3 separate regions of the Homo sapiens genome follow, and regions 1 and 3 are each linked to region 2. The links come from fine-mapping of genetic effects on gene expression. A gene starts in region 2. Each other region holds a variant in brackets. All regions are shown on one strand. Distances are between the middles of the regions. Region 1 has its middle 23 kb from the start of ZNHIT3. Region 2 holds the start of GGNBP2 (gametogenetin binding protein 2). Region 3 overlaps ZNHIT3 (zinc finger HIT-type containing 3).

Evidence for each region.
Region 1: its variant is fine-mapped to the expression of GGNBP2 in whole blood (TOPMed, PIP above 0.99).
Region 3: its variant is fine-mapped to the expression of GGNBP2 in whole blood (TOPMed, PIP above 0.99).

The regions. Positions count from the first base shown.
Region 1 is chr17:36,459,184-36,467,363 of GRCh38, forward strand. No RefSeq gene overlaps it. Among named protein-coding and RNA genes, the nearest start is that of ZNHIT3, 23 kb to the right of the region's middle. The variant G/C (reference allele first, on the strand shown) is at 4,226.
Region 2 is chr17:36,541,448-36,549,627 of GRCh38, forward strand. It overlaps GGNBP2 (gametogenetin binding protein 2), which reads left to right and starts at 3,472. Exons shown (of 14, transcript NM_024835.5): 1 at 3,472-3,650; 2 at 4,172-4,370. The coding sequence starts at 4,278. It also overlaps a transcript of MYO19 not described here.
Region 3 is chr17:36,488,976-36,497,155 of GRCh38, forward strand. It overlaps ZNHIT3 (zinc finger HIT-type containing 3), which reads left to right. Exons shown (of 5, transcript NM_004773.4): 3 at 3,838-3,924; 4 at 4,951-5,031; 5 at 6,248-6,847. The coding sequence ends at 6,429. It overlaps MYO19 (myosin XIX), which reads right to left. Exons shown (of 26, transcript NM_001163735.2): 26 at 6,661-7,431. The coding sequence ends at 7,276. It also overlaps the pseudogene RNA5SP439. Among named protein-coding and RNA genes, the nearest start is that of ZNHIT3, 6.4 kb to the left of the region's middle. The variant G/T (reference allele first, on the strand shown) is at 3,617.

The DNA.
Region 1 (8,180 bases), 82 kb before region 2:
TTCCTTGAGCTACAGACATCGGAGTACAGGGCCCCGGCTCCCTTGTTTCTGCTCCACATACAGAATGGGTCCAGTAGCACTGAACCCAAATCTGGCATTATCTGGTCTACAAATACCCTCCCTCTCACTGCCCTGCCACCCCAGGTCTTGGAGGTACCAGAATACCCTATCATGTACTGGGAATCCCATGTGACTGGACTCATGATGTAGACCACACAAACCCAACCAAAGACCCCTTTCCGGCCATGCTGGGTCCCTGCCCACAAGGGGCAGGTTTCTGACTTGAGGTTGAGGGTAATCACCCAGGGTCGGCACAGGACATGAGGAAGGAGATGGAGCCTGGTGCCCCCACCTCAGACCCCAAGCCTCAGCTCCCTCCCTATAAAATGGCCTCCCAGTGGATTAAAAAGTACACATATAAAGCACTTGGTGCCAAGCATAGCAGATGCTCAGGGCACCTCAGAAGTTAACTGGGTTACTTATGAAAGAGGGTTTGCTGGAGCAGCCTGCTTGCCGCTCACCAGCATCCCTCTCATATCTGTTCCCATGGAGGTAGGGACAATGCTGAGGACTGGCTGGGCGAGGACAGAGGCTCCCGGGGTGGTGTGGGCGTCTGGTGGCAGCAACAGGGCTGCTGCAGGAGCATGTAGTGTGTGTCAAGTGGTAGTGGCACAGCTGCTCAGAGGGAACTGCCTGCCCGGCACTTCACTCTCATGCCCTGGCACTTCACTTTCATCATGAACTCATTCGTGCCTGTGCGCTGGATCTGCCATCATCCACATATGAGTTGAGCTCCCTTCCTTTGCCAGCCCTGGGTGAGGCACCAGGGGTAGGAGGGTGGGACAGGGAAATGACCAGGGCATCTCCCAGGCTTTCTGGAGCTCTCAGACCTCCCGCTTCTGTTTGGGCTGGCTGCCTCGTGTTCCTGCTATGAATTGTCATGCATGAGTGTTTCTGCCCCTTCATTTATGGGGTCCCCAGGCACTCCACTCCCACCCCATGACATCCCATTTTTCTGAGTCTCACAGCTTCTGCATTTTAGTTCACTTCTTTACGTTTGTGAGGTACATTCTCTGGAAGTTTCCTGGCAGAGGTACATGGAAGGTAAAGTTTTCAGACCCTGAACATCTAATGATATCTTTTTTCTACTCTTACATTTGATCAATATTTTGACTAGATATGTACTTCCATATGGAGATAGTTTTCCCTCCAACATTTGAAGTTTACTTCTGTATTCTTCCGGTGTTGCTGTGACAATATCTAGTCCCTAGGGGGTGGACTTCTTTTCCCCCAGAAGTTTTAGGATCTTTTGTTTATCCTGTAGGCATTTTTCAAAATTGCCAGTGCTGTGCTTTCTATGGTATTTTTTTCACGCATTATGTGGATATGTGGTATCAGTTCCTTCAGCTGGTAAACATATGCTCTTCCATTCTGGGGATTTACAAAAATTCGTTATAATAATTTCCTCCCTATTGTTTTCTCTTCCTAGAATTTCTACTAATACGAAGTTAATCAACTAACTCTTTTCGTCTCCTTCCTTCCTTCCTTTTCTTTTACTCCAATTCTCCTTCCCCTACCTCCAGCTAACTTCCTGGGAGATTTTTTCAACTTTATCCTCCAATCCTACTGAATTTTTATTAAACAGCTTAAATTATTTAAAACATTTTTCTTAAGAGATGGGGTCTCACTTGTTGCCCAGGCTGGTCTCAAGAGATCCTCCTACCTCAGCCTTCAGAAGCTCTGGGATTATAAGTGTGAGCCACCGCACCTGGCTAAACAGTTTAAATTCTAAAAGCTCTTTCTTTTTCTTAGACTAGTTCTTTCTTTCCATCAAATTGATTTTGTTTCTGTTTTTGTCTTTTTGAGACAGTCTTGCTCTGTCGCCCAGGCCGGAGTGCAGTGGCACAAACTTGGCTCACTGCAACCTCTACCTCCTGGGTTCAAGTGATTCTTGTGCCTCAGCCTCCCGAGTAGCTGGGATTACAGGACTGCCACCATGCCTGGCTAATTTTTGTATTTTTGGTAGAGATGGGGTTTCACCATGTTGGCCAAGCTGGTCTCGAACTCTTAGCCTCAAGTGATCCTTCTGCCTCGGCCTCCCAAAGTGCTGGGATTACAGGTATGAGCCACCACATCTGGCCTCAAAAAGGCTAACAATCTTTGACTATCTCTTCCTGTCTGGGGATGAGGCATTAAAAAGCTGCTCAGAAGTTCCAGCAGAAGGGGCTACTCCTAAGAGACACAGGACCAGAAAATACAGACTCAAAAGTAGGCCTTGGTGCGCTGGGGCTGCCCCTCATCCTCCACTGGGCCTTTGCATCTGTTCTAGGCTCACAGAGAGAGCAGAATGGGAAACGGGGACCATTCCAGGTGGTGTATGGAGGGTTGCATTTGCTCTGTGCACTGCCCAGTGTGATGTTCCTCAGCCTTACTGTAGGTCATCCAGGTGGTAGAATTATTCTGGTTTATACAGATGCTGAATTATTCTATTTGGCGGGAGCCTTGCCACCCTGGGCTTCAGGGAGACCCTCTCCCAGGGCCCCCTGGGTTTTTCCCATTCTAGCAGGCTTGCTGAATGCGTTTGGATTCACATTCTTCCCCAACAACTGCTGTCACAGCTCTGGATTGGCTACCGCAATGAGAAGGTAAAGCAACACTTTGTGTCTCACGACCTGAGGGCCCAGCAGGTGTGGCCGGCAGCCAAATCCCGACATCTGCACTTCCTCCAGGCTCCTGCCCCTCCCCACGGTGTGCCCAGCAGTCTCCTTTCCTCAGTGGATGCTGTTCATGTCCTTGCCATGGCTGCCAAGCCAGCCAAGAGGTAACATGTTGGTCCTCGGGCCACAGAAGCCCTCTTCTGTCCCTCCAGGAGGATTACTTTGTTAAGAGCCTGGAGTGGCTGTTTGTTAACTACCATAGTAACCATAGCAGTCTGGCTCTGAACAAGGGAACCCCATTAGCATCAGCTCCTTGATGGATGAGGTGGAGAGCAGGGGACAGGGAAGAGGATGTTGCTGAGAAGTTTGAAGAAGTTAGTCATTAGGAGTCTTGGTGACTGTCCCGTGCCCTCTCTGCCCTTCTGTCTCCCCTAATGTGTTCACTAATACCCACCTTTTCTGTCTCTTGGGGTCACTCTAATGTCCATGGTGACACTTGTTATTATCTATTGCCAGGGGACCCACAATGTGAGGACCATGAGGGAGGGGAGTTAGATCTTCCTGCCCCATGGTTGACAGTCCACCTCAACCATGGGGCAGAGCAGCCCCTCAAGGGGCTGAGCAGCACCATCTGTCTCAGACATCATCCAGGGTGTACCAGCAGGCACCCTAGAGAAGGAAGGGGGCCAGCTACAAGAGTCAAAAGCAACATGATTCAGTATGCAGCACAATCATTTTAAGAATCCTGATTCTGGGCTGGGCGAGGTGGCTCACGCCTGTAATCCCAGCACTTTGGGAGGCTGAGGCAGGTGGATCACTTGATGTCAGGAGTTGCAGACCAGCTTGGCCAACATGGCGAAACCCCATGTCTATCTAAAAACACAAAAATTAGCTGGGCATGGTGGTGGGCACCTGTAATCCCAGCTACTTGGGAGGCTGAGGTAGGAGAATCACTTGAATCCGTGGGATGGAGGTTGCAGTGAGCCAAGATCATGCCACTGCACTCCAGCCTGGGTGACAGAGTGAGACTCCATCTCAAAAAAGGAAAGAAAGAAAGGAAGGAAGGAAGGAAGGAAGGAAGGAAGGAAGGAAGGAAGGAAGGAAGGAAGAAAGAAAGAAAGAAAGAGAAAGAAAGAAAGAGAAAGAAAAGAAAAGAAAGAAAGAAAGAAAGAAAGAAAGAAAGAAAGAAAGAAAGAAAGAAAAGAAAAGAATCCTGTTCTGGGACAGCTCAACAGCCCTGAGGCCACCACCTGCTCTTTGCCATAGTGTGAACTCATCCCTGACACAGAGCCCAGTCCCCTGGGGCCCTGCTCACGGGGTCTAGCCAGAATGCTCTCCACAGCTCGAAATGGAACGGCCTAGCAGTTGGAGATGCCAGACGTGAGTTATTGAACACATCTGCCGAGACCAGAGACCAGGACACGACATTTGTATCTACCAAATGAGTGCTGGCAGCTAGCTCTGCTCCCCTGGAACATCCTCTCAAAACCCTTTTGCCTTGACTATTATCTCATCTCTCTCCTGGCCTGCACTGATCCTTGGCCGACTCTAAGAAGTCACCCGTGGGG[G/C]CCTGGGGCAAGACAGGTCATGGTTCTGGGCACCAGCACTGCCATCTGGCTGCTTCTTCTGGCCTCTCTTTGCTGGACTAGTGCCTGGCCCAATATCATGCCATCATGATCACGCTCAACTCGAGGGATATCATTTACTCCTTCAAGGGCAAGATTCTAGACCCCTCACTGCAGAGCCCTTCACTGGGGACACCCGGTCTTCTTTGCCTGCTTGGACATTGAGGGTGGAGGGAGGAAGGGGTTGTGGGCATCCATAGAAGCTGTGGGGGGCATCCAGAAATAAGGGAGAGAGGCATCTTCACTGCTGGCGGTGTGCGGGACCAATTCCAGGGATTGTCTGACTGCGCTCCCCCCCACCACCCCATAGGTAGCAGGGTCTGCTGGGCTTGGATGCCAGTGGGAAGAATGCGTTCTTCGAGAGTGAGTGGACCCTCCTCTGGGCTCACTGGAGGGGACGGGTCTGGAGCAGGCAGAGTGAGCCGCTGCTTGCGGGATCCGGGATGGAGCTCAGGAATGGAGCTCCACACTCTCCCAGCTGCCTGGCCCGGGACAAGCATTGGCCCTTTCTGGGCCTCCTCAGGAATCTCCAACCTCCGAGGCGATTCTAGTTTAAGCCTGATGAGGCAGACGTGCATCCGGGCGGATGATTAGCCGGTGTGGGCGCGGCCTGGAGCGGGCCCAGGCTGGGGAGTGGCGGCTGCACGCGGTGACGACTGTGTGTTCGCTGAGTCAGGGCCCGGAGCGCTTCAGCACCGCGGCTTGGACAGCGCCCCGGGGCAAGCGGGTGGCGCTCTCCCTACAGGGACAAATGACCCCAGGGCCGGCATTTCTGACCTAGAGAACGGGCCTGGATTGCTCTGGCGGGTTCTGAGCCTGGGGTTGGGGGCGGGTGGGGAGCGGACGAAGTGGGGGCGGCCTTTGGAGACGATGGCAATTTACCGCCTTAGGCGGGCAAGCGCACGAGTCCCGGGAACCCTAAACAGGTTGGGGTGCCCCTTGGGGTCTAGATGAGGCCCGGGCTTGCGATAAAGCGTGGCGGCGTCTAGACATAACGTCCCATCTCCTGAACCCGTCAAGGCCGGTGGCACCCAACCTGGCGGGCTCATCTAGGACCAGTCCACACCCAAGGCCCCAAGACCCAAAACCTCCTGGGCTGGGTCTGCCTGGCTAGGGGCCCCTCATCCTGGGCTCTACTCTTTTGGCGCAGAGGCCATGTGGCAGGCCCCTGGTCTGCGCCCTGCTCAGCTTCCCCTCCCCACCCCGAAAAGTGGAGAGCCCCACGGCTTCCCCAGAAAAGCAGTCTGCTCCCCGCGCCCCAGCGCAGCTCGTTTACTATGGGTCAGGAGAGGAATCCCGCCTTTTTTCCGCAGCGAGGATGGCCTGGGCTCCTGCGCGAAGCGAGGCTCCGTCCTGGAGAGGCTCAGTGACCCGGCAGTGGCGCCGATCCGGGTTAGCCAGGGCCGCGCTGGGACCCGCGGAGTCGCGTGATGCAAACGGGAAGGCGGGAGCAACCCAGCTCCTTCCCGGTGCTGCCTGGCTGCTGCATAAGCCGCCCTTTCTTCCCTGACAAACACTGTCCAGATGGGCAACAGGTCCGTGTCTCCTTTGGCAGCCACTGTCTCCAGAAAGGCATTGGGCAGTTAAGGTGGTCAGAGCCCTCAGGTAAATCCTCCCTCTCCAGGAGTCAGCCCTTCCAGCTGCGGGAGGGCAGGTAGTGGGATGCGGGACCTTCGCAGGGCTGGGAGATGTCATCAACTTTTACCCTCACATGGGGAGAGTGGGAGTGCTGGGCCTGGCGGTCCTCTTACGTCCTTACTGTGCAGCTTGGGATTCTAGGTTGGAAGGAGTCACCCTACTGCTCAGTCAGCTCTATTTGCCACCTGCCCAAGAAGACCCATGGGAATGGAGGCTACAAGACACTCTAGGGCACAGTGACAAGGAGGGATTGATTCCAAGACTCCTTGGAAGAACCAGATCCCTGAGCTTCTCAACAAAACAAGGGGCCACCTCTGGTCTTTGCCCTCCAAAGGGGAAGGCAGGAAAATTGTTAGAGGCAGATTGGCAGGAGGGGCCTGTGGAGTGTGCAGGGGGCCAGAGCCAGTTCCTAGAAGTTGAGCAAGGGGATATGGGCACCAATGCACACAACTGTGCACTGGGGGCCTCTGTCTCCTATCCCCTGGTCCCAAGGATGTCATGATGGTTTGACCTGTCTTCTAGGACATTCTCTAACTAGGGCAGCAGCCATGCCTGTTGACCTGGTGAAACAACTCCAGCCCTGGTACCCTGTGACATGACCCAGGAGGTGGTGACCATATGTGGTAAGTGAGTTGGGAAGCAGAGTGGAGGATGAAGAGGACCACCACAGGCGCCAAAACAGCAGTCTCAGTGCAGGGGACCGGGCTCTGGGAAGCAAGGGGCTGTGGTCCTCAGTGATGCTTCTCGGCTCCCAGCTAGAGCTGCAGGAAGTTGTGGACAAATTCAGCCAAGGACTCTGAAACTCAGGTGAAATAAATAAAGAGAGAGAGAGAGAAAGAGAGAGAGAGAGAGAGAGAGGAAGGGAGGAAGACAGAGAGAGGCAGAGGCAGAGACAGAAAGAAAGAATTTCAAAAGATGCAGGCGAATCAGCCCTCCTTCTGCCCCCTGAGCCTGTGTCCTGGACTGAGTCTGAGATGGGAGGTGAGACGCTGCTGGGCCTCCCACCAATCTTAGTTTCTGTAGGTATTTCTCCAAAGTATGGGTTGGTTGAGGGTTGGTTTAAAACATGTTTCTGGCTGGGCATGGTGGCTCAGGCCTGTAATCCCAGCATTCTGGGAGGCTGAGGCAGGCAGATCACTTGAGCCCAGGAGTTGAAGACCAGCTTGGGCAACAAGGTGAAATCCCGTCTCTACAAAAAATATAAAAAATTAGCCAGGCGTGGTGGTGCATGCCTGCAGTCCCAGCTACTCAGAAGGCTGAGGTGGGAGGATGGCTTGAGCCCAGAGGGTGGAGGCTGCAGTGAGCCTAGTCTGGGTGACAGAGTGAGACTCTGTTTCAAAAAAACAACAAAACAAAAAAACCGCAATGTAGTTTCTGACTTTCATGCTGACTGTAGAACTTAACTTTTATGAAGAAACATAATATATTTCAGAACTTTATAGCAACTCTGGTGGCACTGCAGAGTCAGGTCATTCTTCCTGGACTTCTGTCCACTTCCATTATGGGATGTCTCCACTGAGCGTTGCCTACATCATCTCTGAATTTGAGGCCTAAAGTGTGACCAGATTTAATCAAATCCTGCTTGGAAAATATAGGCCCATTCAATGGTGATCCATTCTGGCTAAAGACTTTTTTTTTTTTTTTTTTTTTTTTTTTGAGACGGAGTCTCGCTCTGTCGCCCAGGCTGGAGTGCAGTGGCACAATCATGGCTCACTGCACGTGATCCTCCTCTGCCTCCCAGTGTCAAATTATCCTCCCACCTCAGCCTCCCAAGTAGTTGGGACTGCAGGTACACACCACCACACTCAGCTAATTTTTATATATTTTTTGTAAAGACGGGGTTTTGCCATGTTGCCCAGGCTGGTCTCTAACTCCTGGGCCCAAGTGATCCTCCTGCTTTGGCCTCCCAAACTTCTAGGATTACAGTCATGAGCCACTGCACCTAGACTAGAATCTCTTTGACTGTTTAAATGAATTACAAGATAATTGGCATTTTTAGTACATAGGACTAACATTCCATCATTTATGTACTCTTTAAAGTTTTTCAAATTGTTGTATAATTTCCCCCACAAAGTTTTCGGATAGCAATCTTACAGATTCCCCTGAGAATGTTGGAAGACAATGGTGGGACTACCCAGGCAAAGCCAGAATAAAATAAGGTTTACAATTCTGGCTGAGAAAGGAAGTAGGATTAGGCATGTAGTTAAAAGGGAACCAAATTTTGGTATTTAATAAATAAAAATTTGCCGAATGATGTGAT
Region 2 (8,180 bases):
GTACTTTTCATTTTTTTTAAACCTAGGTAGCCTGGAGAACAGATAGATCTCATTTATGCCTGCATTTTGTGGCTAGCGTCTCACACATTTGGACCTAAGAAAAAGAATGGTAGTTTGCTGATAATTTATTACAGCTCCGTCCCTCCAACTGTTCTTTATTAGGTACCAGCAAAATGTGTTCTGCTGTTGATTGCCTTTACTTTCCTGGCCTTTCAAATCCTTTGAACTTGCATTTCACAATGCCAATATCAAAATGAAATAATAGGCAACAGACAACTGTCTTTTAATGTAGCAATTATATATTTCGTCAATTAGAGGTTTGCTCTCTAAAAGCAGATACTTTTCATTTTAAAGTACATAGGATAATTCTCAAGAAGTATTTGCTGCAGTACTGGTGGTTATGGCTAAAAATAGAGCAATAGTGAAAATAAAAATAAGTGCCTACTCTAAAACCAGGAAGATGCACAGTGAAAACTTTGAAAAATTATTTTGCCATGAAATAATTTTCTAAGCGTTTTCCTTGGGATATTGATTTTATTGTATCGATTGTATTATATTGTATGGTATTAGATTAGATTAGATTGGATTGGATTTATAGCACCCAGGCTACCTCCTTGAGAAACAGCAACTTACCTAGCAAATCCACCTTTTTCGCCTTTAAGAATACGTTTTCATTGAATTCCTATTTGTCCAAAGATACTAAGTATGCCCGGTGGACCTAAGAGACAAACCCAAATTAGGGAAAGTAAGCTCAGATGGAAAGAGACCTTTGGGATTTCATTTTATTATGTTTTATATATGTTTTAATACCTTTTCACAGATTTAAATCCCCAGGGTGAATACTCCCTTCTTTGTTAGTACCTGGCGTGTGTTCAGTAGTCAAAGTAATTAAAATTAGCACCTATATAATGAGCTTGTCATTTTTAATGTTCTTTACCAACCAGAATCCTAATGAAGTCTAAAAGGTTTAGGCTGGGCACGTTGGCTCACGCCTGTAATCCCAGCACTTTGGGAGGCCGAGGCGGGCGGATCAAGAGGTCAGGAGATCAAGACCATCCTGGCTGACACGATGAAACCCCGTCTCTAATAAAAACACAAAAAATTAGCTGGGCGTGGTGGCAGGCGCCTGTAGTCCCAGCTACTCGGGAGGCTGAGGCAGGAGAATGGCATGAACCCGGGAGGCGGAGCTTGCAGTGAGCCGAGATAGCGCCACTGCACTCCAGCCTGGGCGACAGAGTGAGACTCCGTCTCAAAAAAAAAAAAAAGGTTTAAAGTGGGTACATTAATTGATGTACCACTGTAGGAGCACCTCTAGATACTGAAGGCCACAGTATCTTGGCTCACTGCAACTTCCGCCTTCCCGGTTCAAGCGATTCTTCTGCCTCAGCCTCCGGAGTAGCTGGAATTAAAAGTGCTCGCCACCACGCCCAGCTGATTTTTGTATTTTTAGTAGAGACAGGTTTTCTCCATGTTGCCCAGGCTCGTCTCGAACTCCTGACCTCAAGTGACCCGCCCGCCTTGGCCTCCCAAAGTCTTGGGATTACAGGTGTTAGCCGCCGCCCCCGTCCTGGTTTTTGTTTTGTTTTTTACATAAAACGCAAGATTCTCTAAAAATGTCCAAATTTTGGCTATGTATATGAACATCATACATACGTATTAGATTCAAGCTAATACTCACTCTTCTACTCTGCTAACATGGCCAGAAGACATAAAAAAAATTTTTTTTTGAGACGTAGTTTCACTCGTCGCCCAGGCCGGAGCACAATGGCGCGATCTCGGATCATTGCAACCTCTGCCTCCCGGGTTCAAGCGATTCTCTTGCCTCAGCCTCCCGAGTAGCTGGGATAACAGGCGTGCGCCACCACGCTCGGCTAATTTTGTATTTTTAGTAGAGACTGGGTTTCACCATGTTGGTCAGGCCAGTCTCGAACTCCTGACCTCAAGTAATCCACCCACCTCGCCTCCTAAAGTGCTGGGATTACCGGCGTGAGCCATGACCCCGGCCCAGAAGACATAAATATTTGCCGGGTAATGACACCTTCGGGAATGAACAATGGTTCTTCGTTTATTATGTCACCGACCCTAACAATGACCACACAATGTACTAAGTCAACATGGCTAAGGGTGCACTATGGGTTATTTGTTGTGAATCTCTAAGACTCCATGTGATAACCAAAATACTTTATTTTGTTTTGAGATGGAGTTTCGCTCTTGTTGCCCAGGCTGCAGTGCAATGGCGCGATCTGGGCTCACTGCAACCTCCGCCTCCCGGGTTCAAGTGATTGTCCCGTCTCAGCCTCCCTAGTAGCTGGGATTACAGGTACATGCCACCACGCCCGGCTAATTTTTGTATTTTTAGTAGAGACGGGGGTTTCATCATATTGGTCAGGCTGGTCTCAAACTCCTGACCCTCAGGTGATCCACCCACCTCGGCCTCCCAAAGTGCTGGGATTACAGGCGTGAGCCACCATGCCCGACCCAAAATACTTTTTTTAAAGGTATCACAGCTCCAGGAAATAGAGCAGTAAATTGATCTGTCCTTCAGATCACCAGGACTTTCATAGGCTAAATATCTTCACAACAGACCTCCAAAACCTTCAAGGTCAGAACTGAACACACGGTGGCGAGAGGAACTGTCTTCACAGCAGCTCTGCTTCCTCGGAGACGGCCAGAGGGAAAGGCCGTTGGCCAGTGCCAGTACTTCGCCCAAGGGAGTACCTGCTCACATTAACCCAGCCCAAGAAGTTCCTTTGGCCAAGACGCACACACACACACCACTGTCCGGTTTTCTATTTCCTTCCAGTGTAACGACAACCACAAGCTATCAGCACTTCACTATTTGCTGTCCCCTCAGCGGGATCGGGATGCAGCTACGCAGCGGGCCCCTGGCGAGCCGCGGTGTCAGGGCCCTTTTCTCCTCTTCCCACCGTGGGAAGCGAATTCAGTGGCGTCAAGGGCCAAGAGCCAGACCTGAGTTTGTCTCTCACCCCCCGATGCTCGTCTCCCTTTTCTCACTGCCTTCCGCCCCCTCTGATCTCGACTTCTCGCAACCTATCCAGGTCCTCTCTGGGCCTCTGCCCTGAGTCAGCCCCGAATCAGACGGGCTTGACTCGCTGAAAGAATTCCCCTTTGAGAGGAGGCAGATTCCCCTCTACATAGACGACACCCTGACGTCGAGGGGCTTGCCCCTCGTCCGTGGGGAAGCCTTCCCGGCCCGCGGCTGGGGCCTGAGGTTGGGCCGATCACCCCTCCTACCAGTCCTAGTTCGGGTCTAGCGGAATGGCTGGGCTCCGAGAAGGGCGCCGGGCCCACGGGCGGGACGGCCAGGGCGGCCCCGCACCCTCTGGGCGCAAATTTCTCCAGCGGGGTCCCCAGCGCGGCCAGCCCCAGTCTCGCGAGAGGACGTGGGTCCCGCCCGGCGCCCGACCCCGCCCGGCCCCACCTTCCCCTCGTCCCCCGCCCTCCTTCTTCCACTCCCCGCGGCGCGAGCGGCTGACTGCCCGTAGAGGAAACGACATTCGGAGCTGCGCTCCCGCCCACGCCGGCCCTGACGCGGGCCTCGTCAGCCAGTAACAGGGAGCAGAGGTGGGAGTTAGCGAGGCGACCACGAAAACGGTGAAGGTCGGAACCGACAGCCTCCTCCGAGAAGGGTGAGGAAAGGGTCTGAGCCTCCCCGTTCCCTGGACTCCGCAGAGCCGCTGCGGGGTCGATCCCTCCCAGGGGCGGGGTCGCGCTGGGCAACTGCAGTCCTGGGGCCGACTGGGCGGGGTGCGCCCAGAAGCGGGGAGAAGGGGTCAGTTGGGGGCAGAGGGCACCCGGGCGGCGGGCGGCGGGGAACAGGCTGCGGGGCCCAGGCCAGGGGTGGGGTCCTGGGGCCGGGACTCCTGCAGCGGGCGGGGAAGCCCCCGGCAGGCCGGTCCCTTCCGCCTCTCCTTTGGACCCTGACTGGAGGCCGGCGGGCGGGCGGGCGGGCGGGAGAGAGGGAGGGAGCGCGGCGCGAGGGGGGCGGGTCCCGGCGGCGCTGGGCGCTGATTGGCTGAGCGTGTGTGGAATCGGGTGATGGGAAACGCAGCCCGGCTCTCCCGTACCCTCCCGCTCCGCTCCCTGCCCCCCGTGGCGAATGTGCTGCGCAGCGGCGGGTGCTTACGCTCGCGGGGTTTGGCTGTTGCAGGCAGGAGCTGGGAGGAGGCGGCAGCGGCGGCGGCAGAAACAGCAGCGGCGGCGGCGGCGGCAGCTGGGAGGAGGTGGTGACGGTGGCAACGGCAGCGTCGGGGACGATGGCGCGACTCGTGGCAGTGTGCAGGGACGGGGAGGAGGAGTTCCCCTTCGAGAGGAGGCAGATTCCCCTCTACATAGACGACACCCTGACGGTGAGCGGGCCGGGCCGGGCTGGGCCCGCCGCTCCCCTGGCAGCTGTTTCCCCTCCTCCCCCTCCCCCAGGCCGAGCGCTGCGCACTGGAGAAAGAGTGTGTTGCAACTCCTAGGCGAGGCCTTCTCTTCAGCAGGCCCCACAAACTCGCCTTTGCAGTGGGTGGCTCGGTAACCTCTGTCGGCCCCAAGCCCAGAGCTCCGTACGCACTCCCTCTCTCCAGATTTTCCTTCTTTTGGAACCTTATTCCTTGACCCTTTCCCTTTAGGAGACGCTGCTTTTGTCAAAGCACACATCTCAGAGAGGGGTTGAAGGATCTTGGGCGTTTAGGGCCTACCCCATACAGAAACCACCTACCCTCGGGGAGGCTTAATTACCTGGTAATGTCGCAGCTGCACTGCTACCTGTGTATTTTCTGTTTTAATACTGGTAGCTCTCACCACATAAGCTTAATTACTGGGGGCAGAGTGACATGCTCGTGCACAGTCAAGATTCCACTAAAATGGTTTGATTTCGTTGTAAATAGTCTCGTATTGCCTAATGCATTAAAACTCTTGAAATGATTGTATTGCTAGGCCCTTTCTTCAAAACGGGCTTTCTTCGCATTATTTAGTTTACAGGTGGACTTTTTTTTTTTTAAAGGAAGCCAAATTATTGAATGTGTAAGAGTACTATAAAAAGCTGATTGCTCATCTTGAGTGTCAAGACCCAGTTCCGGGTACTTTATTCTTTAGATTTGGTAGTGTAGCATTATCGACCCTCTGCCCTATGTTGCTGTACTGTTTCCTTTAAAAGGAAATGGCTGAAATTTGAATTGAATCTGAACAGGAAATGAGTGCAGTTGCTTGCCACTTAAGAAATGAAATTAACCTTTTCCGAATATCTTTTGAAATCTGCGTTTTGATGATGCTGAAGCTTTGGATTATACATTTGCTTATTTCGATAAGGTGCACCTAAGTCTCTTCATCTCATCAGTATTCTTTTGCTATCAAAGGCAGTTGATCAGTTTTGTTCCTCAATATTTTTTTTTGCAAATATCTACCGAAGTTTTTTCAAATTTTATGTAAAATGCAAGTCATTGTAGAGATGCCAGTCTATGCCTTTATGCTTGCCAGTCTCAATTAAGACTTGATTGAGCTGCAGTACTTTAAAAAGGATTAGAAGAGCTATTGAATGACTTAATTTATTAGAAGTTTTTAAGTGACAGCATTTCTAATTATTCAAGTGCATTTATTTTTCATGAAAAAAGGTAGAATGATTTGTTCTGACATAAAGTAAATAGTGTTGATGCATTAGAAATTGTGTGTCTTGATTATGATTTCTGTACTTTTTGCATTAGAAGTATAATGGACTTGTATTTTTAAATAGTTGAAACTAGCACTGTGATCATATTAAATAATGCATTTCTCAGTTTGGACTTCAGATAGGGATTCATTTGTTGATATTTTCTTTCTTCTCTCCCCTGCTAACATAAACACTTTTCTGAAGCATATAGTTATGATATCAGCCTTTAAGGTTTATTGTCCCACAATGGCTGTGGAGTTAAAAAAAAAAATTCAGTGAGTTTGGATATAAGATTATTATTTAATGAATAATCATAACATAGGAAAACATATCAAAACATAGGGAAAACCAACATAAATAGTCTTCAAAAGACACTAGTTCTTGGTATATTCACATAACCACCTTTGTGAATGCAGCACATTAATACATCTGTCATATAGCACTTTAAAATGGCCAACTTTTTAAGTGCTTTTATACTGTATTCTCTCCACAATGATGTGACTTTCCAAAATTTTCCACTGAAAAAGATGTAACCTTGCAATGTGGTTTAGTATGGAACTTACTTTGCACTGTATCTGGCGGTTGAATTTTGCTTTTATTGTACTGTGGACTTGTGACTAAGGCAAATAAAACTTAAGCTCACTTAATTTAAATATCTCAAAATAACATTTAGGAAAAGGTGCAGTTTTTCTTTGCTTCAGAATGGGTTTTTATCACAAAGGAATGAGTGAGACATTTATTTGTGCTGGGACTTCTGCACAGTCATTGAATGCTGTGAGTGAATGTTAGTGAAAATTCTTGTCAAGGGAAACAAGTTTCTTTCAGGATATTCTACCAAATACTACTGAAAGGGAGAATGCAGAGCAAAACACCTGTTGGGAGAGAAGGGGAAAAGGGAAGAGGGAAGGAAGATGCCCCTATCAGAGTTTTATGCTCTGCATTGTTCCTTTGATAGATGGCAGTGGATGCCTGAAGTTAACCTTAGGTTTTGTCTTTGTCCCTAGGGTCTGTAGGTAATGCACTGAGGAAACATTGTTTGAACTTATTTCAAATAGTAGTCTTAGGATTTTGATAGTAGCTAAATGTTGCAATATAGTTACAATGTTTACAGGCAGTTGCAGACTTTATCATTTTAGTTGGGATGCTGAAACTTTACCCTTAGTTAAACTGGCAGTTGTAATTTGGACTTGTAAAATGAAATTAACAAACTTGTATGTAAAGAAGTAGCCTTAGGCTGGGTTTGGTGGCTCACGCTTGTAATCCCAGCACTTTGGGAGGCTGAGGCAGGTGGATTACTGGAGGTCAGGAATTCAAGACCAGCCTGGCCAACATGGCAAAACCCCGTCTCTACTAAAAATACAAAAATTAGCCAGACATAGTGGTGGGTGCCTGTAATCCCAGCTACTCAGGAGGCTGAGGCAGGAGAATCCTATGAACCCGGGAGGTGGAGGTTGCGGTGAGCCGAGATCGCACCACTGCACTCCAGCCTGGGCAACAAGAGCAAGACTCTGTCTCAAAAAAAAAAAAAAAAAAAAAAAAAAAAAAAAAAAAAGTAGCCTTAGGCCCGGTGCTGTGGCTCATGCCTGTAATCCTAGCACTTTGGGAGGCCGAGGCTGGCAGATTGCCTGAGCTCAGGAGTTTGAGACCAGCCTGGGCAATGTGGTAAAAACCTGTCTCTACTGAAATACAAAAAAATCAGTGGGTGTGGTAGAGTGTGCCTGTAGACCCAGCTACTGATGAGACTGAGGCAAGAGAATTGATTGAACCCCCAGAGGCGGAGGTTGCAGTGAGCCAAGATTGCGCCACTGCACTCCAGCCTGGGAGACAAAGTGAAACTCCGTTTCAAAAAAAAAAATAGCCTCTTCTTTTATGTGATATGTTGTGTCCATGTTTAGAAGATTCCCATGGTAGTTCAGTGAGTTTGAACACCTGAGTATAGGATAGGGCTGATGTAGGTGTACTTGAGAAAATTCCAAATAAGTTGGTGGAATGGTGAAATATTTAAGAAAGTTTTATACTCTGGCTAAAATGTTGTTCAGTGTTACTACAATTATAAAATAACAGATAGAATACATATTTGATTTTAGAGAAATCTGAAGAATTAAAGTTTTTTTTTTTTTGAGACACAGTCTCGCTCTGTCGCCCAGGCTGGAGTACAGTGGCCTGATCTTGGCTCACTGCAACCTCTGCCTCTCAGGCTCAAGTGATTCTCCTGCCTCAGCCTCCTGAGTAGCTGGGATTACAAGTGCGTGTCACCACGCCCAGCTAATTTTTTTGTATTTTTAGAAGAGATGGGGGTTTCCCTATGTTGGCCAGGCTGGTCTTGAACTCCTGACCTCAGGTCATCTGTCCGCCTCGGCCTCCCAAAGTGCTGGGATTACAGGTGTGAGCCACCACACCCGGCCAAAATATATATTCCTTCTAAAATCTTGAAAAATAACTACAAAACAAATTACCCTTAGTCATGCTTCTCAGGGATAAGCACATTTGGTGTAATTTCAGTCCTAGACACACAGATACAGTTAAT
Region 3 (8,180 bases), 52 kb before region 2:
TACTCTTCCTAGCCTCCAGTTACCACTATTCTGCTCTCTACTTCTGTGAAATCAACTTGCTTAGCATCCACATGTTAACAAGAACATCTTATGGTGCCTGGCTTGTTTCACTTAACATTATGTTCTTTGGGCTCATCCATGTTCCTGCAAGTGACAGGATTTCATGGTTTTTTATGGCTAATATCCAGTGTATATATGTACCGCATTTCTTTATCCATCTGTTGGTGGATCCTTAGGTTCATTCCTTATCTTGGCTGTTGTGACTAGCAGTAAACGCAGGAGTGCAGGTATCTCTTCGGCAGACTGATTTCATTTCCTTTGGATATATATACAGTAGTGGGATTGCTGGATCATATGGTAGTTCTATTCGTAGTTTTTTTTTAGGAACCTCTATGCTGTTTTCCATAATGACTATACTAATTTACATTCCCAATAACAGTGCAGTGTATAAGAGTTCCCTTTTCTCCACATCCTTGCCAACATGTTTTTTTCTTTTTGATAATAGCCATTCTTACTGTGGTGAGATGATACCTCATTGTGGTCTTGACTTGCATGTCCCTAATAATTAGTGATGTTGAACATTTTTTCATGTACTTGTTGGCCATTTATATGTCTTCTTTTGAGAAGTGTCTGTTTGGCTCATTTGCCCATTTTTTTTTTTTTTCTTTTTGAGACAGAGTCTTGCTCTTGTCGCCCGGGCTGGAGTACAGTGGCGCAGTCTCTGCTTACTGCAACCTCCGCTTCCAGGGTTCAGGTGATTCTCCTGCCTCAGCCTCCAAAGTAGCTGGGATTACAGGTGCCTGCTGGCTGATTTTTGTATTTTTAGTAGAGACAAGGTTTCACCATGTTGGCCAGGCTGGTCTTGAGCTCTTGACCTCAGGTGATCCACCTGCCTCGGCCTCCCAAAGGGCTGGGATTACAGGGGTGAGCCACCATGCCCGGCCCATTTGTCCACTTAATTTTTTTTTTTTTTTTTTTTTGGCTGTTGAGCTCCTTGTGTATTCTAGATATTAATCCTTTGTCAAGTGAATATTTTGCAAATATTTTCTCCCATCCTGTGGGTTGTCTCTTCATTCTATTGTTTCCTTTGTTGTACAGAAGCTTTTTTGTGTAATAGAATTCCATTTGCCTATTTTTGCTTTTCTTGCCTGTGTTTTTGAGATTTTATTCATAAAATCTTTGCCTAGACCAATGTCCTGAAGCATTTCCCCTGTGTTTTCTTGTAGTAGTTTCAGGTCTTACATTTAGGTCTTTAATCCATTTTGATATTTATATATGGTGACAGATAAGGATCTAGTTTCATTCTTCTGCATATGGTTATTCTTACAGTTATCCTATTTTTCCAGTACCATTTATTGAAGAGTGCTTTTTTCCCCAGTATATGCTCTTGGTGCCTTTGTGAAAAGTCAGTTGGCTGTAAATGTGTGAATTTATATCTGGGTTCTCTATTCTGTTCCATTGATCTATGTGTCTATTTTTATGCTAGTACCATGCTGTTTAGATATTATAGCTTTGTAGTATATTTCGAGGCCAAGTAGTGGTGATGCCTCCAGCTTTGTTCTGTTTGCTCAGGATTGCTTTGGCTATTGGGGGTCTTTTGTGGTTCCATATTAATTTTAGAATTTTTTTTTGACATTTCTGTGAACAGGATCATTGGTATTTTGATAGGGATTGCATTGACTCTAGATTACTTTGGGTAGTATGGTCATTTTAATATTTATTTTTCTTATTGGTGGATATTTACATTAATTTTGCCTTTGTTGCTGCTATAGGCAGTGTTAAAGTGGTATTTAATAAATAATTTTTATCAGAAATTTCTAATAGCCACATCTGTTGTACACTTTTCATTTGTCTTTTTTATTTTTTTGCAACAAAGTCTTGCTCTGTCACCCAGGCTGGAGTGCAGTGGTGCTCACTATAGCCTTGACTTCCTGGGCTCAGGCAGTCCTCCTACCTCAGCCTCCCAAGTAGTTGGGACTGCAGGCGTGTGCCACCATGCCTGGCTTATTTATTTTTAATTTTAATTTTTGTGGAGATGAAGTCTCACTGTATTGCCTGGGCTGGTCTTGAATTCCTGGGCTCAAGTGATCCTTCCACCTTGGCCTCCCAAAGCGTTGGGATTACAGACGTGAGCTACCCATGCTCAGCCTGTCATCTTTCTTGATTCCCATGAATATCTGCTGTGTTTGGCTTTTTCTTTCTTGATATTCTTTGGAGGCTGGGAAGATACCGCTCTGTGGTATTCTCTCCTCCCTTTCTCCCTTCGAAGTCCTAACCAGGCCTGACCCTGTTACAGCTTCTGAGGTCAGATGAGATAGGGTGCATTCAGGGTGGCTTAGCTGTAGACTCTCGTTTTCTTTTTTTTCCTTTTTTCGAGACAGGGTCTTGCTCTTTTGCCCAGGATGGAGTGCAGTGGTGTGATCACAGCTCATTGCACCCTTGGCCTCCTGGGCCCAAGTGATCCTCCCACCTTAGCCTCCTGAGTAACGGAGACAAACTTTATCTATTTTTCGTAGAGACAGGGTCTCACTGTATTGTCTAGGCTGGTCTTGGACTCCTGGGCTTAAGCAGTCCTCCTGCCTCAACCTCCCAAATTGCTGGGATTACAGGCAGGAGCCACTGTGCCCAGCTTCTCCTTCCTTTTGCTAGATCTCTCTCTTGAAATGTGGTCCTTGACTTTTATTCCTAGGTAGGTGATCTCTCTTTCACTTTAAACTTTTTTTTTTCTTGCTGACATCCAACTGTTTAGCTCCAGCCTCTTTTTGAGCACCTTAGACACAAATGTATTTTGGGGTCAGGTACAACCCAGAAAATTCACCTCTCCTTCAGTCCCTCCTGCTGTGTTCCTTACACATATAGCATAGCCGTAAAGTTAGACCCGGATTCCAAATCTGCCTCTGCTACTTACTAGCTGTGGACCCCAATGGACAAGTTTATTACAAGAAAATTTAATCCTTTCATCTGTAAGTGGAATTAACAGTCTCCATGTCATGGGGGCTTCGTAAAGGTTCATTGAGCCACTATGTATCTCACTGTGTACCTGGCACAGTGCTCGGCACTTAGTCACTGGCAGCTGTTGTAACTGCCACCTACATGACTAGAACCTTTCCGTAGCATATTGTCAAATCTACATTTTAAGTCTCTACAATCTGGTCCTGCCTTTATGTCCTCAGAACCCTTTCCTGTGACTTCATGCTCTGTTGATACTGTCACCCAGGCTGGAGTGCAGTGGCACAATCACAGCTCACTGCAGCCTTGACACACTGGGCTTAAGGGATCCTCCTGCCTCAGCCTCCCAAGTAGCTGAGACCACATGTGTGTACCACCATGCCTGGATGATTTTTTTTATTTTCTGTAGAGACATAGTCTTGCTAGGTTGCCCAGGCTGGTCTCAAACTCCTGGGCTCAAGTGATCCTCCCACCTTGGCCTCCGAATGTTAGGATTACAGGCGTGAGCCAGCACAGCTGGCCTTCTGTTGACTCTGTAAGTTCTTTGGTGGTTTTGCCCCTAGTTTTATCCCATCTGGTATCTGGTTTACAGCAGCTATTTCAAACACCTCAGTTAATTGTGGTGAGAATTTTGTAAGATTCGGCAGGGTAGGGAGGATGGGGACAG[G/T]TTCTTGGGGTGCATGAATGAGTCCTGCTTTCTCAGCCTGCTGGCGGTTTTCCTTAATCTCTCTCTTGCTTTGATCTCTCACTTCTTCCACATTCCTGGGCACCCACCCACATCCCTTACCCCAGACACTTGCTTCCTACCTAGATGCTACCTTGGTAGGGAGGTGCAGCCTTGTCGCTGAAATGGAGGTAATGTGGGCCTGGGATTTGTGTCTTTTTCAGAACAGTGCAACCCTGAAACTCGTCCTGTTGAGAAAAAAATAAGATCAGCTCTTCCTACCAAAACCGTAAAGCCTGTGGAAAACAAAGGTGGGTTGGTTGACTTCAAACAAATCTACAAGGGACTTCACATAGAATAAGTCGAAGGAAAAGGGGAGAGTGGGGCTGGTCAGGGAATCCAGAACAATAGCTTCATTGGGAAGGAACAGCTTCCTTAGCCTTGAGCATCAGGAGTGGGGCCATGTCATCATGGGTGATATTGAGGCAACAGCCTGAAAGCAGTATTCAGGAGAAGAAAAATGGGCAGAAGACAGAGATGAGAAAGGCCATGGCTGTGGTTTGGGGGTTTGCGGTGGGCCCTGCTGGCAGGAGCCTTCTCTAGCCCATAGCTGCTGGTCTCCCTCCATGAATCTGGCTGGGACTGTCAGTTCACCTGAACTCAGCCCAGGCAGGAGGCTTTCTTTGTCCTAGATCATCTCGCTGCTGCTGGGGGTTCAGAGCTCACAGCAGTAGTGGGCTGTCAACCCATCCGTCCAGCCATCTAAACGTTCTTTAATACCTCCTGGGTGTCAAGCACCATGCCAGGCTCTGAAAGCAGCCCCTCTGGTGCCACCAAAGAGGTATTGAACATTCACTCCAAAGGCATGGCCCATTTTTGCCCTTTGAGAAATTTCCAGGTTGGGTTCAGGCAATGCCAGCAGTTTCTGCCCATGCTGAAAGCACAGGAGATTCTACTTGGCTGGTTTTTACAGAGCATCCAGTTAATTGGCCCATCACAGGGTTGGAGCCATGTTGAGGTGGGGATGGGTATTAAGTTATTAGACAACCGGGGTCTAAGCCTAAAGACCACAGGACCACATATACAGTAAGGATGTGAACACTAGAGTGCATTTGTTAAAATCACCAATTCTTTCACTTAGCCTCCCTCTTCTAAAAAAGGAGTGTTAGTATAGTCACAGACTCCGGAGAAGAGGATTTTTGTCTGTACCTGCTTGAATACCCCTATCACTATCACATGTGCGTGCACACATTTTTATCCTGTTCAAGTAGTGGTTAAAATCTGGTGCCCAGGCCTCCTTTTTAGCCATGAGCCATTGACTGTTTTGTATTCCTTAGATGATGATGACTCTATAGCTGATTTTCTCAATAGTGATGAGGAAGAAGACAGAGTTTCTTTGCAGAATTTAAAGAATTTAGGTAAGTCTGTGCTATGCTTGTCAATCGTTGAGATACATTTACTGTGTTGTAAGGATTGTGATTTTTTAAAAAGTTTTTAATTTCTTGAATAAGTATGGCATGTAGGGCTCTTACTATCTAGCCACATAATCTGTAAACATACAGGGTTTCACACCTCCCAGCCTGCCCACACCATTCCTTCTGCCTGGAATCCTGCTGGTCTTGTGGGTTGGCAAAATTCTGCTCCTCCTTCAAGCCTTGGTTCAAGTTTTCTTCACTCAGCTAAGCTTTTCTTGACCTTTTGTGTCTCTTTCAGAATTAGGCACTTTTTTGGTTTCCCATAGCAACTTGGACTTAATAGTAATAAATCACTGTTACATTTCATGGTAATTTGTCTCTCACATACCGATTTGTACAGCAGGGACCTGTATTCCCAGATCCCCAGTGCTCAGCTCACAGTCCAGCCCTTAACACAAACTGGTTATCACATGATTTGATTTAGGGGGAAACAGGTGTTGCCATTTTTGTAGCACTGCTTATTCAGTCCTTACAACATTCTGTTACATGTGCATGGGGTCTGTTAATTTCATTCTTCCCATTTCACAGAATCATGTTAAAAGGTTATGTTTTGCACTTAGTCTCATGGTAATGATTAGTTAGACTGAGTTTGGAGATGAGCTAGTAATAGGTGTGAAAAATTTTACAGACTGTGAAGTACCATGCAGGTATTATTGTTGGTTCCCTGCTACTGGTGCTGCTGCATGCCAAATGGCATGCTTAGACATCATTCAGATTATTTCGTATAGCCGTCTTCACCACTGGCAACTTTTATGGCTAGAAAGAAAGAAAACATGCCAGCAGCTTAATGCTACTATTTGCTTTGTGATTGTGCTGATAAAGCATTTTTTTCTTAGCTGAAGTGGCACGAAGTTACAATATTTACAAAGATACCAAGAACTGGTATCTGTTACTGCATTTAATGCGGAAATAGTTTGATATGCTGGTCTTACCTTTCATTTTATAGAGGTGGGGTCTCGCCATGTTGCACAGGCTGGTCTTGAACTCCTGAGCTCAAGCAATCTGCCCACCTTGACCTCCCCAGTTGCTGGTATTACAGGCATGAGCCACCACACCTTGCTGATAGTTTTATTACACTTGAAATAGCTCTTCACTTTTCAGCCATCTCCATGTGTTTCCACTTGAACTCAGACTGGCTTTTTTTCTTGTTAATTTTTAGGGGAATCTGCAACATTAAGAAGCTTATTGCTCAATCCACACCTCAGGCAGTTGATGGTCAACCTCGATCAGGGAGAAGACAAAGCAAAGCTCATGAGAGCTTACATGCAAGAGCCTTTGTTTGTGGAGTTTGCAGACTGCTGTTTAGGAATTGTGGAGCCATCCCAGAATGAGGAGTCTTAAGATGGATTATTGTGCTGCTTGCTCAAGCGTGTGCTTGACTCCTGGAACCTGCCTGCTCCCTCTCCCAGACCAGCTAGTTTGGGGCTGGGGAGCTCAGGCAAAAGAGGTTTCCAGGATGCAGATTAGGTCATGCAGGCCTTTACCGGCATTGATGTGGCTCATGTTTCAGGCAGACTTGGGGTCCTTAAGGTGGCAAGTCCTTTATGGAGAGAAAACTTGACATTCAGATGATTGTTTTTAAATGTTTTACTTTTGGTACAGTTGATAGACATCATAAACGATATCAAGCTTACACTTCATATGGAGTTAAACTTGGTCAGTGTTAATAAAATCAAAACGTGATTCTACTGTACATTGCATTATTCATAATTTAATTGTTTGAAATTACATTAAATAAATCAACTAATTAAATACTAAAGTTTTGTTCCTTTTTAAAGGAAATAACCACAAGATTTTTCCCAGCCCAAATTCCAGCGCCAATTTTAGGCCAACTTTGGCTGTTTTCTTCCAAAAGTGCTTATGTGGAATTGGGATCCCCAGTGTAGTGACAGACAGTCATGACTGCTGCTGAGTTTGATCTGTGAAGGTAGTGAAATGTGGCCCTGATGTTTCTTAACCCTGATTTGGTAACTACCAGCCCTGACACCATCAGTGCTTGATGTAGCCTGGAACCCCAGGCCCACTGACGCACTGGGCACGGGGCTCTGGGTCGAAGGCTGGAGCCGTCACTGTTGTTCATGTGCATTTGGAGCACTGTGGGAATAGTCTGGCAGCTGTGTGCTGATTAAATGTCTTTGGCAAGGCAGGGGGCAGGAAAAGGCCTTGTGGAAACAAAGGCACCAAGGATCACCCCAGCCCAGTGAAGGCAGAAGAGGTCACGTGGATCAGCCTGTGTCTTTCCAGCAGAATCTGATTAAAGCCTGTAATGCTGTAGGGTGAAGGTTCAGGGCAGATGTCAGCATACCGCAGTGGAGACTTTCTGCAGTGAAACTTTATCGATCCCTAGAGGGGAGAGAGAGATGCAGCTTTAGCACTAGTTCCTGGGAGTGCCAGGGCCTAACAACCCCACAGAGCAGACGCTAAAAATGCAAGAAGGTATGGACAAGTACTAGTATTGGGGGCCACAGCAGGATTAAAATAGCATTACATCCACTCAGTGTGAGACAGATGAGGAAACCCTAGGAGGAGGCGCTCCCTAAGAGGAATGTCTGTCACATTCCTATGACTGCTTAAAGCCAGAAGGGCAAAACATTTACCCTTCTGTTTAGCAGGCCTGTGTGTTTTCATGGGAGACTTCATCCAGATTAAGGCCTATAGTTATTCCTCTGAATGGAAATTTGGTGTTTCCTTCTGCCTTGTCATTTCACTTACTCCTTGCTGTGACTCCATGCAGTAGGTTGAGTATTAGCCCATTTTATAGACAGGCTCCGAGAAAATGTGTCTTAGCCAAGATCATCCAGTGAATGGGGCAGAACCAGGATCCAGACCCTGGGGTTCTACCTCCCAGTGCAACATACTTTCACCTTTCCTCGGCCACTTTAATTCTATGAGGCCTGGCTTACTGGGGTGACTCACAAAGCCCTGAGTGACAATGACTTCCTGAGTGTGCTGGCTGACTTTTCCCTGGATGCTTATATAAAAACAGCTGGGCACGGTGGCTCACACCTGTAATCCCAGCACTTTGGGAGGGCAAGGCAGGCAGACCACTTGAGGTCAGGAGTTTGAGACCAGCCTGGCCAATATGGCGAAAC